Linked DNA regions of Homo sapiens: region 1 is linked to region 2. The links come from fine-mapping of genetic effects on gene expression. A gene starts in region 2. The other region holds a variant in brackets. All regions are shown on one strand. Distances are between the middles of the regions.

The links. PIP is the estimated chance that this variant, and not a neighbour inherited with it, causes the effect.
Region 1: its variant is fine-mapped to the expression of ADAMTSL3 in iPS cells (HipSci, PIP 0.95).

The regions. Positions count from the first base shown.
Region 1 is chr15:83,699,388-83,708,741 of GRCh38, forward strand. ADAMTSL3 (ADAMTS like 3) reads left to right here. Exons shown (of 30, transcript NM_207517.3): 3 at 5,002-5,121. Among named protein-coding and RNA genes, the nearest start is that of ADAMTSL3, 50 kb to the left of the region's middle. RefSeq lists an enhancer at 8,818-8,987. The variant C/CA (reference allele first, on the strand shown) is at 4,616.
Region 2 is chr15:83,649,558-83,658,911 of GRCh38, forward strand. ADAMTSL3 (ADAMTS like 3) reads left to right here and starts at 4,566. Exons shown (of 30, transcript NM_207517.3): 1 at 4,566-4,719; 2 at 6,172-6,273. The coding sequence starts at 6,205. RefSeq lists an enhancer at 3,035-3,204.

The DNA of each region.
Region 1 (9,354 bases), 50 kb after region 2:
TTCCTCCCTTTTCCTCCCTCATCGGAAAGCTTTGTTGGTTCTACTTCTAATCCATGCACCTCTCCCCTTCTCTACTGCCATCATCCCAGTCCAAGGAACCATCCCTTTTCACCTGGGTTAGTACCAACAGCCTTCCAACTAGTCTTTGTGATTCCACTTTACCTTCTTCTAGCTCAGTCTCCACAAAGCAGTCAGTGTTGTTTAAATACTCTTCTATTGTTCTCCGTCTCCTTACCATAAGGCTTTAAATGTCTTGGGTGGCTTTTCCCTTCCTTCTTTATCCATTTCGTGCCACTGTTACTTGTCCGCACTGAATTCAGCCACACTCTAGTTCTTCCAATTCACTGACTTCCTTTCCACTTTGGAGCTTTTGTACTTGCTCTTCTTTTGCCGGTAATACTCATCCTTAGCTTTTTCCATAACTGGCTCCTCCTGTTTGAGGTATCATCTGAAATCTTATCTTCCCATGGATGCCTTTTTTGACCATCTTATCTAAAATTGAACAGTCCTCTCCCAACATTATTCTCATATCACCTTGTTTATTTCCTTTAGAACTTAGAATGTTAGTTTTCTTATTTATGTATTTGTTTACTTATTTTACTATGTATCTCCACCTCTAGGATGTAACCTCCATGAAAATAGGAACCTGATCTTTTTTGTTCCTCATTGTATCTATCGCACTGAGAACTGTGCCAGGCATATATTAGGTGCTCAATAAATATGTGTTGAATGCATGGTCAACTGAATATAAGCATCACACTGGAAGGTCCACTATATGCGGGAAGCTGTTTTAAGGTGGCGATCTTTGACTGCTTCCACTCTGGTAAATGGATCTGTCCAGGTATTGGCACATGGCTGCTAACAGGTTCCAGCCCTGGCTGTAAGCCTGCGTCTGTTCCTCAAACTCACTGACCTCCTTTCTATTTTAGGGCTTTTGCACTTGTTCTTTTTTTGTGTGCCAGGAATAGTCACTGTCAGATTTGGTGATTGGTTAGTCTCCTAACTCTCAGAGCTATAGTTTACTCATTTTTAAAATAAGGAGTTTGACCTAGATGACTTCTAAGGTCTCTTTAGGTATTTAAAATGATGATTCTGGCTGGGCGCGGTGGCTCATGCCTGTAATCCCAGCACTTTGGGAGGCCAAGGCGGGCAGGTCGCCTGAGATTAGGTGTTCGAGACCAGCCTGGCCAACATGGTGAAACCCCGTCTCTACTAAAAATACAAAAATTATCCAGGCATGGTGGTGGGCACTTGTAATCCCAGCTACTAGGAAGGCTGAGGCAGGAGAATTGCTTGAACCTGTGAGGCGGAGAGTGCAGTGAGCTGAAATCACGTCACTCAATTCCAGCCTGGGTGACAGAGCAAGACTCCGTCTAAAAAAAATTAAAGTAAAAAAAATAAAGTGATGATTGAAGCCAGTAAGAGCAATTAGCAATAGTGGTGCTAAATCTCTCACATAAATGAAATTTAATAAGAAAGTCTTCAAATTATTTTAACAGTCTAGTGCTATCTAAGCCATCTAGTCTAGTGGAGTTATCTCTTCTATATTCCTTGACAGAATGATGTTGATTTCCCTTTCTAAAACACAGTATTCAGAGGGACGTTTTAGCGTAAACTATAGTTCCTGCTGCAGTTTGAGAATGAGTCCATTGGAGCAGCAGAGGTGTCAGAGGAATATGTTTACTCCCTGCTTCTCCTGTTTGCAGAGAGCAATTTTCTTAGAGTAACACCTGTGGCCTCTTAATTTATTTCTGACTCATTTCTTCCCAAGCAGGGGGAGTGAGGTATCCAGTCGGGGGTATAGTCACAGATCCATGTATTTTTGACTGGATGGGGCTAAGCTCTGCAGATTCTATCTCCTTTATTACTTTCCTCCTTGAAGCAATCAAGGCAGTGATCCTGGTAAACCCTCTACCTCCTCAGTCTTCCCTTGGACAGGCTCTCCCAGGAGGTGGGTGATAGTGTGATGGTAGCAAGTCCATTGGGTCATCATATCCCAGCCATATTCCCCTAAAGAGGGTGTCCTTTCTGACCCCCTCAGACTCCAACCATTGTGATTTATGTCCAGTGATTCAGATGCCAGGTAATATGGTTTGATTCTGTGTCCCCACCCAAATCTCATCTTCAATTGTGCTCTCATAATTCCCACATGCTGTGGGAGAGACCCGGTGGGAGATAATTTGAATCATGGGGGAGGTATCCCCCATACTGTTCTCATGGCAGTGAATAAGTCTCACAAGATCTGATGGCTTTATCAATGGTTTCCACTTTGCATCCCTTCATTTTCTCTTGCCACCATCATGTAAGAAGTGCCTTTTGCCTCCTGCCATGATTCTGAGGCCTCCCCAGCCATGTCGAACTGTAAGTCCAATTAAACCTCTTTTTCTTCCCAGTCTCGAGTATGTCATTACCAGCAGCATGAAATTGGACTAATTCAGTAAATTGGCACCAGTGGAATCGGGTGCTGCTGAAAAGATACCTGAAAATGTAGAAGCAACTTTGGAACTGGGTAACAAGCAGAGGTTGGAACAGTTTGGAGGGCTCAGAAGAAGACAGGAAAATGTGGGAAAGTTTGGAACTCCGGAGAGACTTGTTGATTGCCTTTACCAAAATGCTGATAATGATATGAATGAAAAGGTCCAGGCTGAGGTGGTCTCAGATAGAGATGAGGAACTTCTTGGGAACTGGAGCAAAGGTGACTCTTGTTATGTTTTGGCAAAGAGACTGGTGGCATTTTGCCCCTGCCCTAGAGATTTGTGGAACTTTGAACTTGAGAGAGAAGATTTAGGGTACCCGGTGGAAGAAATTTCTAAGCAGCAAAGCATTCAAGAGATGACTTGGATACTGTTAAAGGCATTCAGTTTAAAAAGGGAAACAGAACATAAAAGTTCAGAAAATTTGCAGCCTGACTATGCAATAGAAAAGAAAAACCCATTTTCTGGGGAAAAATTCAAGCTGGCTGCAGAAATTTCCATAAGTAGTAAGGAGCCTAATGCTAATTCCCAGAACTATGGGGAAAATGTCTCCAGGGCATGTCAGAGACCTTCATGGCAGCCCCTCCCATTACAGGCCTGGAGGCCCAAGAGGAAAAAGTGGTTTTGCGGGCTGGGCCCTGGGTCCCTTGGCTGTGTGCATCCTAGGGACCTGGTGCCCTGTGTCCCAGCTGCTCCAGCTATGGCTGAAAGGGGCCAATGTAGAGCTCGGGCTGTGGCTTCAGAGGGTGGAAGCCCCAAGTCTTGGCATCTTCCTTGTGATGTTGAGCCTGCAACAGAAGTCAAGAATTGAGGTTTGGGAACCTCTGCCCAGATTTCAGAGGTTGTATGGAAACACCTGGATGCCCAGGCAAAAGTTTGCTGCAGGGGCGGGGCCCTCATGAAGAACCTGTGCAATAGCAGTACGGAAGGGAAATGTGGGGTCGGAGCCCCCATACAGAGTTCCTACTGGGGCACTGCCTAGTGGAGCTGTGAGAAGAGGGCTACTGTCCTCCAGACCCCAGAATGGTAGATCCACTGACAGCTTGGACCATGTTCCTCGAAGAGCCACAGACATTCAACGCCTGCCTGTGAAAACAGCTGGGAGAGAGGCCATACCCTGAAAAGCCACAAGGGTGGAGTTGCCCAAGACCATGAGAACCCACCTCTTGCCTCAGCGTGACCTGGACATGAGACCTGGAGTGAAAGGAGATCATTTTGGAGCTTTAAAATTTGACCGCCCCACTAGATTTTGGACTTGCATGTGCCCTGTAACTCCTTTGTTTTGGCCAATTTCTCCCATTTGGAATGGCTGTGTTTATCCAATACCTATACCCTCATTGTATCTAGGAAGTAACTAGCTTGCTTTTGAATTTACAGGCTTATAGGCAGAAGTGACTTGCCTTGTCTCAAATGAGACTTTGGACTGTGGACTTTTTGGTTAATGCTGAAATTAGTTAAGACTTTGGGGGACTGTTGGGAAGGCATGATTGGTTTTGAAATGTGAGGACATGAGATTTGGAGGGGCCAGGGGTGGAGTGATATGGTTTGGCTCTGTGTCCCCACTCAAATCTCATCTTGAATTGTACTCCTATAATTCCCATGTGTTGTGGGAGGGACCCGGTGGGAGATAATTTGAATCATAGGGACAGTTTCCCCCATACTGTTCTCGTGATAGTGAATAAGTCTCACGAGATCTGATGGTTTTATCAGGGGTTTCCGCTTTTGCATCCCTCTCACTTTCTCTTGTGGCCGTCATGTCGGAAGTGCCTTTCACCTCCTGCCATGATACTGAGGCCTCCCCAGCCACGTGGAACTCTAAGTCCAATTAAACCTCTTTTTCTTCCCAGTCTCGGGTATGTAGTTATCAGCAGCATGAAAACGGACTGGGGTATGAGCTTTCCATGAACTAAACACAGTCTACAATATGCATGTTTATTTAAGCTTGGATTTTTAAACAAAGCATTATGAAGAAAAAGTCTCAAAGGAAATACACCAAAACAATTAACAGTGGTTATTACAGGTTGAAAAGATTATGGGTGATTTTATTTTCTTCTGTGCTCATTTATATGTTCTAAAGTTTCTACAATGAAGTGCATTTTTGTTGTAGTATGGGAGAAAATTTTTGTTTCTCACTCCTTTGC[C/CA]AAAAAAAAAAAAAAACACAAAAGGAAGAAGAAAAGAAAATCCTAAAAACAATAGATTTGCAACAACAAGACAAAGTTAACTACTCTGTGACTGAATTGCTGGAAGATGGGGAGCAGAGGTAGCGGGGAGGGGGAGAGAGGCAGGTGTCAGAGAATAAATGCCATGGCTGCCAGTTTGATTCGGGCCACTGTGATATCCTGGCCTAACAGTGCCCTGACACACCTGGTGTGCCTCACCCTGGTCTTTGCCAAGAGAGGTCACTTCCCTTTTTGTTTCTTGGTACAGCTATTAATGGTGGATTCTCCTGGAATGGCCTTCTTGGACTTTACCTGTCAGGGGGTCCTTACTGGAGCCTTATTTGTGACCAAATGATCTTGTTTTTCAGACCACAGCTGAGAAATCTCCTGGAGCCTATTTCCTTCCCGAGTTTGCACTTTCTCCTCAGGGAAGTTTTCTGGAAGACACAACAGGGGAGCAGTTCCTCACTTATCGCTATGATGACCAGGTAAGAACATTGGACAAGGATCTACCTTTGGCTTTGCTGTTTGCCAGTGGTCAGGAAACTGTCTCTAAAAGACCTTCAAAGTAATTATATTTTCCTCTTTGCAATACAAGTACAACAGACCCTTGACACCCTTGAAGGATCCCAGAATATGTGGATTGCCCATGTTTGCATGTAATTTCCTATATAATGTGCAGTTCTTTCTCTGCATTTGCATAAAAGTCACTTTTTCTTATTTTCATCAGAAATATATGATGGATTTGTTCATCTCAGCTATCACCACATTGATGATTCAATTCTGAAATTATCCAAAATTCTGTTTTCTGCTTATGTGTTACTTCTTTGCCCTCAGCTTTTACTTCATTTCTTTTACCAGCACCAATGTTGCATGCTTTTTTCCCCAAGATTACTTTTCAGAAAGGAACACAGTGTGAATGCCTGTGTGTGCATATGTCTGTGAGTGTGTGTGTGTGTGTGTGTGTGTGTGTGTGTGTTGAAATCATTTTAGGAAGGCTAACTAGAGAAGAAGGCCTTGCTTGGCTGACATGTGTAAGCTGAGCACTGGAAGTTGTGATTCCCTTCCATCCTCAATTCACCTTGATGCCATAATAGCATTTAAGATTATCCATCTTTGAAATCACTCACAACTTGGTGAAACAGAGAGTTTCAACTTTGCCTAATGCAAAGCTGGTAAAGCCTGAATTTATGGGGCAGTTGAGCAAACCAGGGTGGACTTTAAGATGATGTAGGGCCTGGGTGGATCTGGCAGACCTCAGCACCTGTAGGGCCCAAGTGAAGGTGAGGAGCTGGGGCAAGATCACCTTCCCATGGTACGTGATAGAGTGGAGGGAGATGGCCCAGTGACTGAGGCCAGCTGTGCTCTCCTCAGCTGTATAGCCAAAGGCCAGTGCATCCTGGTTTGATTTAGGTAAAGCCTAGTCAGAGTGCAAAAGACAGTACTCAAAAGGAACAGCTCTGAGAAATTCAGTCTGCCAACATGGGTAGATCCAAGATGTGACCACAGGGAGTAGGACCCTGTTCTGAGGGCTGGCTGGAGCTAGGCAGAGTGCTGGAGGTGGGCTGGGAGAAGGATGAAAGTCTTGCAGAGCATCAGTGGCTGATGCAGGACGGAGATTAGAGCATAGAGGGCAGGTAGAGGAGTCTGTTGCTCAGTCCTCTATCTCCCAGCTCAGGGGAAGACACTGCACACTCTCCATCCTTGAGGCTGCTGCTCAGTGACCTACCCTTGGTGGGCTTCATTCCAGAGCTGGGACTGGGGTGAAGGTCAGGGCTGTGACCCTCCAGACCGCTGTGGGCAGGGAGCCACACTGGTCATTGGGGCAAGAGTGGGATGAGACCAATTTCTTACTCAAAATGTCAACATTCAATCATATTTTCAAGTTACTTTAAAAGTGAGTGAGTGCATTACTAGTCATTGTGGGGAGCAGGGGTGGGCTGGGGAATAATTCTATATTTGCATTGTAGAGCCCAAACATTTGGGCCTGGTTGCTAATAGGGGCTAAAACATCATTAAGTCACTTTCTGCCTTCCCCCTTCCCTTGATGGATTTTGAGAGGGTCTATAATTTATAGCTCCTTTTAATCCAGAAATCAATAATCCAACAGGTTTTCATATGAGAACTTCAGAGGAACTAATTGAGAGGGCCGTAAAGGATAAAAGCGGGTGTCTGGAAAATACCAAGCTATGCATTTTATAATTAAAGAGTGGTTAATGTCTTCTCCAGGTTCCACAGATACTTTATATTTAACATAATAACAATATAAAAGCTGGGAAAAGGGGAAAACAAGCCCCTTCAGTCTTTTCAAAAGGTCTAAAGCAGATCTGAAAAGTGTGTGGCATGCTGTGGAAATTTCATCCTAGGACATAGTGTTCCAGAAAGCCTCAGTGACTAGCATATGAAAACACTCTGTGTTGCCCCCACTGTGTATTTCTTTTAGGAGAAAGGAATAATTTGAGACTATAACAAGCCAATAATAGCACCCACTTTCCTCTACTAAAGGCACAGAAAATAGGCGCTTGGACTAAACTAGGTTTATCTATTGAATGAACCTCAGGAATTTAATCAGCTAGAGACTGTTAACCCACCAACCAAATCCTGATTCTCTTTCCTCTTTTTTCTTTTCTTTTTTTTTGAGATTGGGTCTTGTTCTGTCACCCAGGCTGAAGTGCAGTGGCATGATCACAGCTCACTGCAGCCTCAACCTCCCCACCCACACTTAGGTGATCCTCCTGCCTCAGCCCCCGCCCCCCACCCCAGGTAGCTGGGATTATAGGCATTAGGCATGTACCACCACCCCTGGATAATTTTTTTTGTCTGTATTTTGTAGAAATGAGGTTTTGCTATGTTGACCAGGTTGGCCTCAAACTCCTGGGCTCAAGCGATCTGCTCTCCTCGGCCTCCCAAAGCGTTGGGATTACAGGTGTGAGCCACTGCGCCTGGCCAATCCTCTTTTTTCTTAATGCTGAACATGCTTCTCAGGCACTGGGGAAAGGATAAAACCAATCAAATACTATCAAACTTTTAAAAAATCCCCTGATCCTTCAGCATATGACAAAACATTAAGATCAATTAAGAACAAAGTCTCTGGAGTCAGACTGCTTTGGGTTTGAATTTGATTTGTCAGTTCTGCCATTTGATTTGCTGTTTTACTTTGGACAAGTTACTTTACTTCCCTGTCCCTTAATTTTCTCATCTATGAAATGGAGATTTGGATGGTATCTACCTTATGTAGGCGTTAATTCATGTCTCCCTGCATAGGGCCTGGTACATATAAGCATTTAATTTAGCTATTGTTATTACTAAGAATGTTGTTTGCAAACACTCAATTCAAAGAATCTCAGATATGCTTATGCTAAAAGAAAGGAAGAAGTTAATTCTTACTTTAGGAGATCTCATGCAATATTTTCAATTAATTTTTTATTGAGCTATAACATATGTAAGTAAAACGCATACATATCTGAAGTATAGAGCTTGATGAATTTTTAAGTATTTTTACACCTGTGTAGTTGCTACCTAGATCAAGAAAATGAACATTTCTAGCACCCTAGGAGGCTCCTTGAACCTCTTTCCGATCAATATCCCACATTCAAGAAGTAACCACCATTCAGACTTTTATCAGTATTACAGATTCATTTTGCCTGCTTTTAATTTTATTTTTGATTTTATATAAATGGAATCATACACCACATACTCGTTTGTGTCTGGCTTCTTTCACACATCATTATGTCTGAGAGATTCAACCCAGTTGCTGGATCCAACATAATATAGGGTTTAATGTCTAGCAGCCAGTTGTACTCTTTGGAACAAATTGTCTCATGTTGGAACAAATTGCAGCATACTGGGTGGCATGCAGCATTACTCTTGCACAGAAATTCCCAGGTTGTCCCTAAAAGGTTTTCAGAGCAGTCTCTCCAAAGATTTCATACCTGGGGAAATGGTGGGGACAGTTTTCCAGTGTAGCCTTTGTTATATGCCAGCAGCCACCGGCATTCCACAGCCAGAAGTAGGTACAGGGTCTGTGTGAGTGGCTGCCAGGGCAGAACCTGTGTCAGGTGGCATGGGTACCTACCTGTGGAATCTCCATATATATATGCCAGGGGTGCTGTCCTGCTGTCACAGTGGCTTGAAGCCAGAGTGACAAAGTACTTATGCAATTGAGGCTGCAGCCTAGTTTCTAATGCTGTTGGGTCAGATGTGGGTTCACTAGGATCTTCCTACCTATAGAGTACTCATTTGATAAAATGGGATGCAAATGGATGGTGTGTAGATATTTGCTGTCTTGGATGAACCTCACAGGACTTTTTAAAGTGTTTTATCCTGGGCGCATTTCATGAAGACCTTCAGGTCATTCTTCAAATGTCTCCTGGGTTAGATGCCTGGAAAACTAATAACCCTGAGGCCAGTAACACATAGCTGTGATGTAGGCTGCATTTAATGGGAGGCGTAAAAGCCACATTATGGATCATACGGAGGGCCGCGGCAGCTTCTAGTGAAGAAAGTGGTCTGAAGCCAACTGAGTAACAATGTGGTTTAGTGCAAACAGGACTAGTCAGGCAGCCTGGTCTTGCTTCTACCACTAATCAGCTTATAATCTAACAGAACTATTTAACGTTTTGGACTTTGGATTCTTTATTTCTTTTAAAAAACAAAGTGACTGGATTTCATGATCTGAACTCTTTCCACTCTAAAATAGTCTGAAACTACAAATAGAATAT
Region 2 (9,354 bases):
ACCTAACATCCAGATGTGTTCTTTTTTTTTTTTTTGAGATAGAGTCTCGTTCTGTTGCCCAGGCTGCAGTGCAGTGGTGTGATCTCAGCTCACTGCAACCTCTGCCTCCCAGTTCAAGTGATTCTCCTGCTTCAGCCACCCGTGTAGCTGGGACTACATGTGCACGCCACCATGTCTGGCTAATTTTTGTATTTTTTAGCAAAGATGGGGTTTCACCATGTTGGCCAGGCTGGGTTCGAACTCCTGACTTCAAATGATCTGCCCGCCTCGGCCTCCCAAAGTGTTGGGATTACAGACATGAGCCACCGCACCTGGCCCCAGATGTGTTATCTCTTAGTGGCCTTGGCTGAGAGTGTATCTTTGGTGTCTGCTGCAGTCAATGGTAACTTCTATTGGAGTACTTGCCTCCAAGTACTCTTTTTCTCCAAGCCTCCAACACAGCGTTCTTGAGTGTGCTTCCCAAGCCCACTTCACAACTCTGTAACCAGAAAGAGCATTTCTGTTTCAAGAACAAATTAAGGCTGATGCCTGAATTGATATTCCTTGTCTCTAAGGGTAAAACCTAAACACACCCCAACACCACCATCATCAATAGTTCCTTTCCTGATCTTCAATGTGTATCTCTCACGTGAATGTTGTACTGTGTGCTTGTTGGGTTGAGGTCAACAGGCAAAGCTGGGAGCAGGCAAAGCTGGGAGCGCGGGCAGGAATCTCTGAAATTCATCTAGGAAGAAGCAGGTCCTGAGACAGGTAGTGAAAGCCAGGAAGCCAAGAAGTTGGATCTTAGGGAGGAAATGGAACTCAGTTTCCTCGACCCTTCAGAGTCTAAATGCATTGCCATTGTCCCCAGGTGGTGGGTGTTCTCACAGGGAGGAAGTCCAGGAAGTAGGCAGGGAGGGGCCTGAACCTCCCCAGATAGTGATTGGGTAGGTGGCTACACTCAACAGCCAAATCAGCCAGATTAGCTGCTTTGGGGTTTATTCATTCCTGTTCTTCCCAATTCCTGATCTCCCACCACACCATGCCTTTGGCAATGTCTTATTTAAACATTTGGGCCAAGCCTCAGGTGAGGAAGTAAGGATGGGAGGGAAGTGTGGGTGAGTGACTGAGGGAAGGGGTGAGGGAAGAGGTGACTGAGGGGTGGTGAGGCCATGATTCTGCGCATAACATCTGTGAAGTCCAGCCAGCACCCCCAGTGGAGGCTGTCCTCTGCAGCTCTTTGTTGTCCTAACTTACAGTACCTTGGCCACTCACACAGGTTTGCTTGACCTGCTAGGGTTAACTGGAAGGCAAAAGTTCTATAAAGGTATTGGTGATGTTTTCTCTACTACTTTTCGCTACTGGAACACCTGCTCTTTGAGGGGGCTGGCCTCCTGCTAGATGGAACCTGTGGGAGAGAAAGGCTCAGTCCTGGTCTTAGTACTTGGTGTGGGGCACTCCTTGGAGGCTGGCTCAGGAGTCAGATTGCCCAAGGGAGATGAGACAGGAAGTCCTGCTGAGCCATTAATACCTTAAAACAGAGCAGTGCATCTCAAATGTTCCCAGCAAAGTCCCCCAACTCCAGAGGCATTCTCAGTGACTTCTTGAGTTGCAGACACCGGGAGCTCTGCTTAATGCAGCCACCACTGCACAAGCATAATATTTCTTTGAATTCTCCATTTCATCTTGCATATTCATGTGACTTTTTTGCATTTGACTCCATGATATGGTGGGGCTAGTTTTAGAATATGAACGATGAGGAGTGGTATCGTCTAGTTGCTAAGAACATGAGGTATTTAAACCTTTCCACTTCAGTTTCCTCATTTGCAAAATGGGAATAAAAATAATATCTACCCCATAGGCTGTTGTGATGATGGGATGACTCGGTATAAGCAAAGTATCTGGAACAGTGCCTGCCACATCCTAAGTGTTTTGAATGTTAATGTGGCTATTCCTTTACTGATACTCTGATATGAGAAGCACGAAAAATCAATTCTCATTATTTGCAGATTCCTTATTGTGAATTCAGCTACTGGGTAAAATTTATTTGTCACCTCCGTTAAATTAAGTTTAGCCTAAAGTTGCCTTCTTACATATTTTAAGTTCGGCCTAAAGGTCTCTCTGTACATAGTAAACTGTAACCTGATGATGTGTAAACAGACTGTAACCTACTCTTGAAGCAGTCACAGAGTTTTGGCCAATCACAGGCGGTCAACTGTTTAAACCATGTTTAAATAAGGCAAATGCCGAGCTGTAACCAATCCAGCTGTTTCTGTACCTCATTTCCGTTTTCTGTTCATCATATTCCGTTTTCTATCCATAAATATTATCTGACTATGTGGAAGCCCCAGAGTTGCTCTGAATCTATTTTGTTTTGGGGCTGAGGGGGGCTGCCCTATTTTCAAATTGTTCTTTGCTCAATTAACCTCTGTTAAATTTGTCTAAAGTTTTTATTTTAACACCTCATAATCAATAGCTGCAGCACTTTCAAAGTCATTGAACCAGTGCTGAACGTTTTGAGTCTCTTGAGACACATGTTGGAAGCTAAGGTCCAACCAGTCAACCCTCTGTCTTCTTGTTTCAGCTTTCACACTGTAAATGAGTGGCCCAAAAGTTCTCTTCATTGCCATGTTTTCACATTTTTTTGGTCTTTTTTTTGATGATTTTGCTGCTTAAAGCACCCCCCAGGCACAGTGCTGAAGTGAAGTCTAGCGTTCCTAAGTGGAAGAAGGCTGGGATGTGTGTTGCAGAGAAAATACGTAAGTTAGATAAGCTTCATTCAGGCATGAGTTACAGCACTGTAGGCTGTGAGCTCAGTGTTCAGGAATCAACAATAGATGTTAAGTAAGGCGTCTTTAAACAGAAACATGCATAAAATAAGGCAATGTGTTGATTGATTGACAAAAATATTGTGAGCTTGCAGGAACCCAACTCTATATTTCCCCTAGGAACAATGGCTCCATATTCACAAATTCGTTGTTCTGTGACTTTATAGACCACAACTACAGTAAATAAAAAGGATCGATTGTCCATAGATGAGTTAGTTCTAGTTTAGCCCAGCCCTCCCTACCCTTCACTGGCTACTCTTACCTCTCCTGTCTCCACACTGACCTGTCCTCTGCTCACTTGCCACAAGTCCAATCATTTTACATAGAGTGGAGAGACAGCCTTGAAGATCCTCTTCTTGGTCAGAGGAAGTCACCAGAGTAAGTAAGGGAAGAATGAGTGAGGAAAGCAGGCAGGGCCAATTGCTCTTGGCAAAGCTCTAGCAGTAACCGGAACGCAGCAACCACAGAGAAGGCAGGAGAACAACTTTAGGGGTGAACAGTCCAGGCTCTAGAGAGAGGCAGATAGGGGTTCCAGTCCTGGCTTCTCCACTCATGGTGGGCAAGTTATCCTCCCAGCCTCAGATTTATCCTAGGTGAAATGGGATAATGCTCGAACTACTGCTGCTGTGAAGATCAGATAGACACAAAGAGCTTGGTACTCGACAGACACCCAAGGAAATGGCGACTGTGGTAGGACTTAGGTGGGGGCATAATGCAGCCTTTAAGATCAATCTCCTGGCCCTTGGCTTATCCTGCTGGGACTAGGACAAGGACAGGGACAAACATTTCCTTTTACTTCTCCTCACCTCCAGAAGTACACAGGCAACTCACCCCAGTCTCTTGTCCGCGACACTCTTCCCCCCAACCCCAAATCCCAGGCCTGGACACGGCATGATTCTGGCACCTGTGGAGCTCTCAGTTCCCCAAGCCCGGCTCAGACAAGGAGGCGCCAGGTACCCAGTTAAGAGGCGCTCCTGCAAGATCCTCGTGGTCCCTGGCTGCCAAAGGTCCCAGGCCTCTGGGCAGTGAGCGCTCCACAGTCCCTTGTGTGGCGTCTATGCTGCGCGGAGGAGGCGCAGGCCAGGAGAGGGCCATTGGTCTCCACTATGGTCCTGCCTGGCCAGGAGTGCCTATGGCTCTTAGGCACGAGCCAGCGGTTCCGGGCAAACCTCTGTGTGGCTGCTGGGCCTGACTTTGCAGAGCTGGCGCCCGGGTCTGGGCGGGGTGGGTGGAGGCTATGGGAGGTGGGGCCGGGGGTGGGCTCGGGGGGAGCGACGGCATCCCTGCTCCGGCTCCGGCTGAGGCGGGGCGGCCAGGCTGGCTTGCGGCGCAGCGGCCGCCTTTCCCCAGTGCGCCTGCCGGCGGCGGCGGTGGCGGCGTCGGCAATCCCGGCTCTTGGCACAACGCCTGGCGGCCGGCCCAGGGCGAGGAGTGGCTTCCAGGAAGCGGGCGGAGGAGCGTTCCAGCCGAGTCCCGCCGTCGCCGCGGCCCCGCGCGCTCCGAGCGGCCCGGGCCTGGCCCCACACGGCGTCTCTTCGCGCCCCCGGCGCCTCCAGCTCAAGCCGAGGGCGCGGTGCCGGCGCGCAGGCTGACGGGCGCCTGGGCGCGCCGTGCACTTGCCGGGCGGTGCAGGTGGCGGCGCGCGCCCTCCGCCTCTGGGCCGGGGCCAGCGCAGCGCTCTGCGCGCCCGGAGGGGGCGGGAGAGGCGGGGCAGCCCCCGTCCCAGCCCCATTTAACTTCGCGGCGGCGGCGGCGACTGCGGCGCCGCGGGCTGGAGGCCGGCGTCGGGGAAGGTCCTGGTGCCGGATTCCGCACGAGGTGTTGACGGGCGGCTTCTGCCAACTTCTCCCCAGCGCGCGCCGAGCCCGCGCGGCCCCGGGGCTGCACGTCCCAGATACTTCTGCGGCGCAAGGTGGGTGCACCGAGCTCGGCGCAGGGCGGCCCCTCAGGGGTCGGGGGAAGGCGCTCCCCAGAGGGAGTAAGACTTGGAGCAGTGGCCTCTCTAAGCAAGTTGGGGGTCTCCAAGCAGAGTCGGGGCGTGCCACGCGGGCCCCAGGGGGCCTCAGGACTGGGGTGCTCCTCACTGCTGGGCACCTCGGGTCGGGCGCGCTTCGTGCCGTCCCGGAAGGTTCAGGGAGAGTCTTTCGGCGGCAGTTCGCGGGCTGAGGGGCGTTCTTGATTATGGGGGAACTCCACAGGGTTGGAGTTTTTCAGGATTGGGAGTTACTAAGCAGAAACCTCGCGGGTCCGAAGGTCCGGCCGGTTGACCACTGGGTAGCGAGCGCCCAGAACGCCGGGGGTTGAGGCGACGCGCGATCGTGGAAAGTGGGCGTGGGGGTGACCGGGACGCGGCGGAGGCACTGGAGGAGCGACTTCGAGGCAGCGGGTAGTCGGAGGAGTGTGCACTCGGAAGGCTGGTGCGAGCAGGCGAGGGTGGCGCAGAGTCCCAGGGCCCCGCACTGGCCGCCTCCCTTCAGCCAGGAGTCGCCGCCTCAGGTCGGAAACAGCAGCACATTTGCGGATCACATTAGACCAGGCCCTTAATGCCTTCTCCAGATGGAGAGAAGCCACCGACCCGCCCCCGGACACCAGCTCCGCCAAGGCGCCCGCGAGGCGAAGCGGGAGTCGAGTGTGACCTCGGCTTTTCCAGTCTCGACTCATACTGATTTCCCTGTAAATTGACAGGAAAAGTAAGGGAAAAAGTCCCCGCTTCCCTCCTGGTTTCAGCTGACCTCTGCTGGCTGGCCCTCACCTACTTTTAGGAGATTGTGTTAGGCTGGCTCAGGGGCTGTGTCCTCCAAACCTCCCTGAACTTAGCTCTCAGGCGTCTCTCTGGGTGTGGGTCCCGGACCTCGAGGGCGCACGGTGTCATCTAGCGAGGAAAGCCTTGAACTATCAGAAGATCTGCGTTTCAGCCCTAAAATGTCACTATCTTGCTGTGTGACCTTAGGCAGGTCCTTTCCCTCTCTGGGCGGCTTTGTTGTCTTAGACTCATTTTTGCCGCGAGCAGCAGAAGCTAGCCTAAACCTTGGCTCTGTGCTGGCTTCCTGAGTCAAATGCCAATAGCGACACCCTGCTGCTGACAGATAGGCTTGGGCAGGGATATCTCAGCTTCTGAAGAGCTGGAGGTATGAGATGCCCACTGGAGACAGGTCCAGCCCTCGCCTGACTTTGTTGTGGACCTTCTAAAGGGAGCCCAGTTAGCCTGCACCCTGCAGTAGGCAGCGGCAACCTGGGCCAACACAAACCTTTCCAAAATAGTATATGGGCTTCAGGGTCCCTCCATCTAATGGGTCGCTTAAGTCACGGTTTACTGCCATGGGGGCCAGAGCTGGTTGGTAATGAACTCTTTCCTCGTTTGTAGGCTACAACTGAGACCCGGAGGAGACTAGACCCCATGGCTTCCTGGACGAGCCCCTGGTGGGTGCTGATAGGGATGGTCTTCATGCACTCTCCCCTCCCGCAGGTAAGGTCATATAGGGAGGGGAAGGGAAATGGTGGACATCCCTCTGTTTACTCAGAGGCATTATTGTATACCACCTAAGATGTGGCATGATTAGTGTTAATCCTACACCAGAGAACCAGACTTTCTTTCCTATCTCTAGCCAATGGTATTTCTGGTTGGCTTAGCTGTAAGGATTATCCAGATCCCTTGGGTCCTCTCTGAATCCTGAGTAGGGCTTTAATAGCACTGTGGATACCATACACCGGTGATGACCTGGGGCTGTGATGGACCCTGTCATTTCAGACTAGAATGGCTGTCTGCATGTGCCCAGCAGAGGCTGGGTTGCTGGAGACCAGGAAACAATGGGCAGAGCCAGGTTCTGGCCCTAGCTAAGCTGCTAAATAAATATTCTGAGTTTACATCTATCATCACATATCCCACTGTTTTATCCCACAGTCCTCTCTTTAGACTTCTGCTGTCTTTTCCAACCAACTTGAGAGGACCCGGCTCATGAATTGCATCTTTATTTGCCTAAAGGACAGACTCAAACAAAGGAATGAGGCTAGCATTGCCTAAGAGACAATAGAGAGTAACGGAGACAGTGGCAAAGTGCAGAACGCGTGCTCCATCTATTAAGAGCAGTCTCTACTCAATTCCATCTGATCGTTGCTAAGTGGAGACATAAGCCCAGGATTGCCAGATCTTATTTTTCAAGATAGCTGGATCATCTAGACTTCTTACAAAATTTCCCAGTTTTTAAAGTATTGAAAGGCAGATAAATGTGTTTGCAGCCTGGATTCAGCCAAGCAGTTTGCAGCCCCAGATCTAAAGGCAGGGCACATCTTAGTATTGTGTCCCAAGGGCTGCTGCTAGCTCCATACAGTGTCTTATGAATTAGAACAAGGCAATCCCTCCCTGCAGACATAGCTTCTCAAATACATGGCTTGGTGGCCTGTGTACCCTCAGGGTCTCGGAAGGGACTTGTCACTTAAGGGCTTAAATGTCTGTTAAATAAACATGCATCCATGAATGAAGATATATACCCTGGGATAAATTAATCAGACTCCTCTGCCTCTTGTTTCACTTTCTTGGACTTAGTGCCTCTAAAGCCTCTTTTGGCTCCAATGCCCTGTGAATTCTGTGATGCACAAAGAACTGGTCAGCAAGGTACATCTTCTCCCCACTATCCCATTTTATCGATACTATCCCATAATCATATTAATAGAGCTCTTTTGTTAGAACAAAAGTTAAGTCTTTTCAGGATGATGTTAGGGTTCTCTGGCCAGCGAGATGACTGTTGAGGTAAAAGCGTGGAGACTTACGTTTCTGTCTCATCAGCGGATCTGAAACAGGCTTTGAGAGCTTCAGAGATTTGTTCCTGGTCAAATGGGGCTGAGGCTTCAAGGCACAGTGTTCATTTTGCCTTCTTTCACCTTATAAAATTTAAATATGCTTTGAGGCAGTCTGTTGACCTTTGGCCAAGGGCAGTGTTTGCCCAGCTTGAATCACTCACTGACCTCTTTTGGATTTTTCCATATCTGTGTGCCTGTGGCAGTGCTGTTTCCATGTATCCAGGCAGTGTGCATAGAAGGTCATAAAAGGAGATTTCAGACCAGCAGTCTTCATCATTCACGCCACTCACTGTTCGGATCCCAGCTCTACCACTTCATTACTGTGTCACGCAAACGTCTCTGCATCGCATCTCAGTTTTCACATCTATACAGAGGAGATAATATTAGTATAGACCTCAGAATTGTTTGGAAGAGTTAATCCATTGTGAAGTGGAAAAAAGTGAAAAACCAAACCAAACAATGTCTGGCACATAGTAAGTGTACAATAAATGTCAGCATTCTGCTGTTGCTGCTGCTTGTCAGCATTAGAAGCTTGAAGCAAGCGCAGTGCCTGTATTTTCTGGTGTAGAGCCTGTAGGGGGCACTCAAGAGGTATCAGCTGTGGAGGGCCTGATCTTCAGGGAGTGTGGGTGGGCATGGCTAGGTCTGTCTCACCAGAGGCCCTGAGAAAAGGTTCTAATGAAGGGTGGTAGGTCAGCCCTGTGTCCCTGTCCGTGGGTTGGATGCTCTGTTTTTTCCGTAGGGTCAGCCTGGGTTTGACTCAAGGCCGCCCTTTCTGAAGTATCTTGTGATTTTGGTGTTTGGGTGGGGCTTAAGGTGTTCCCTGGCGTCTACCCTTGCTTCGTATGTGCTGCCACCAAGGTGGTTGTTAGAAAACTGCTAGATGTGTGAGGCTGAGCTGTGAGGAGCAAGGGATGTGCCAACTAATTAATAACAAATAGAGTTTCCTTTCTTTTCTTTTCTTTTGAGACATGGTTTCACACTGTTGCTCAGGCTAGAATGCAGTGGCATGATCTCAGCTCACTGCAACCTCTGCTTGCTGGGTTCAAGCAATTCTCGTGTCTCAGCCTCTGAGTAGCTGGGACTACAGGCGCACACTACCACATCCAGCTAATTTTTGTATTATCGGTAGAGATGAGGTTTTGCCATGTTGGCCAGGCTGGTCTCGAACTCCTGACCTCAAGTGATCTGCCCACCTCGGCCTCCTAAAGTGCTGGGATTACAGATGTGAGCCACTGCGCCCGTCCACAAATATATTTTCTTTATTGAATCAGCTAAAATGTAAACTCTTATATTCACTGCCCACAAATAATTGTGAGAGATTGTAGAACAAGGTAAGAGGCTGGTAGTTCCTTGTTTTTGTAACTCGTTCTTGACCATTCCTCGAGGAGCTCACTGTTCCCCTCATCCAGGCAGCTGGAGCGGCCTCCCCTCTTCCTGTCTCACAGGCCCTGGAAGCTTCCTGTTGCTCCAGGCTTCTCCTTAGGGATCTGATTTTCCCAGAGAAGACAGCAGCTGCTGTTCCTACTCTCTCTTCCAGCCTGGAGTATTTGAAAGCTTTTCAAACTTTATCCAGCCTGGAGTATTTGAGAGCTTTCCAAACTTTATCTAGCCTGGAGTATTTGAGAGCTTTCCAAACTTTATCCTGAACACCTTGAAGATGAGTCCTGTGTTGACTGTGCCCTGAATTACAACGTGCCCCCCCTTTTTTTTCTCTTGCCCATGAGAAGAATAAACAGCCTTATCTGTT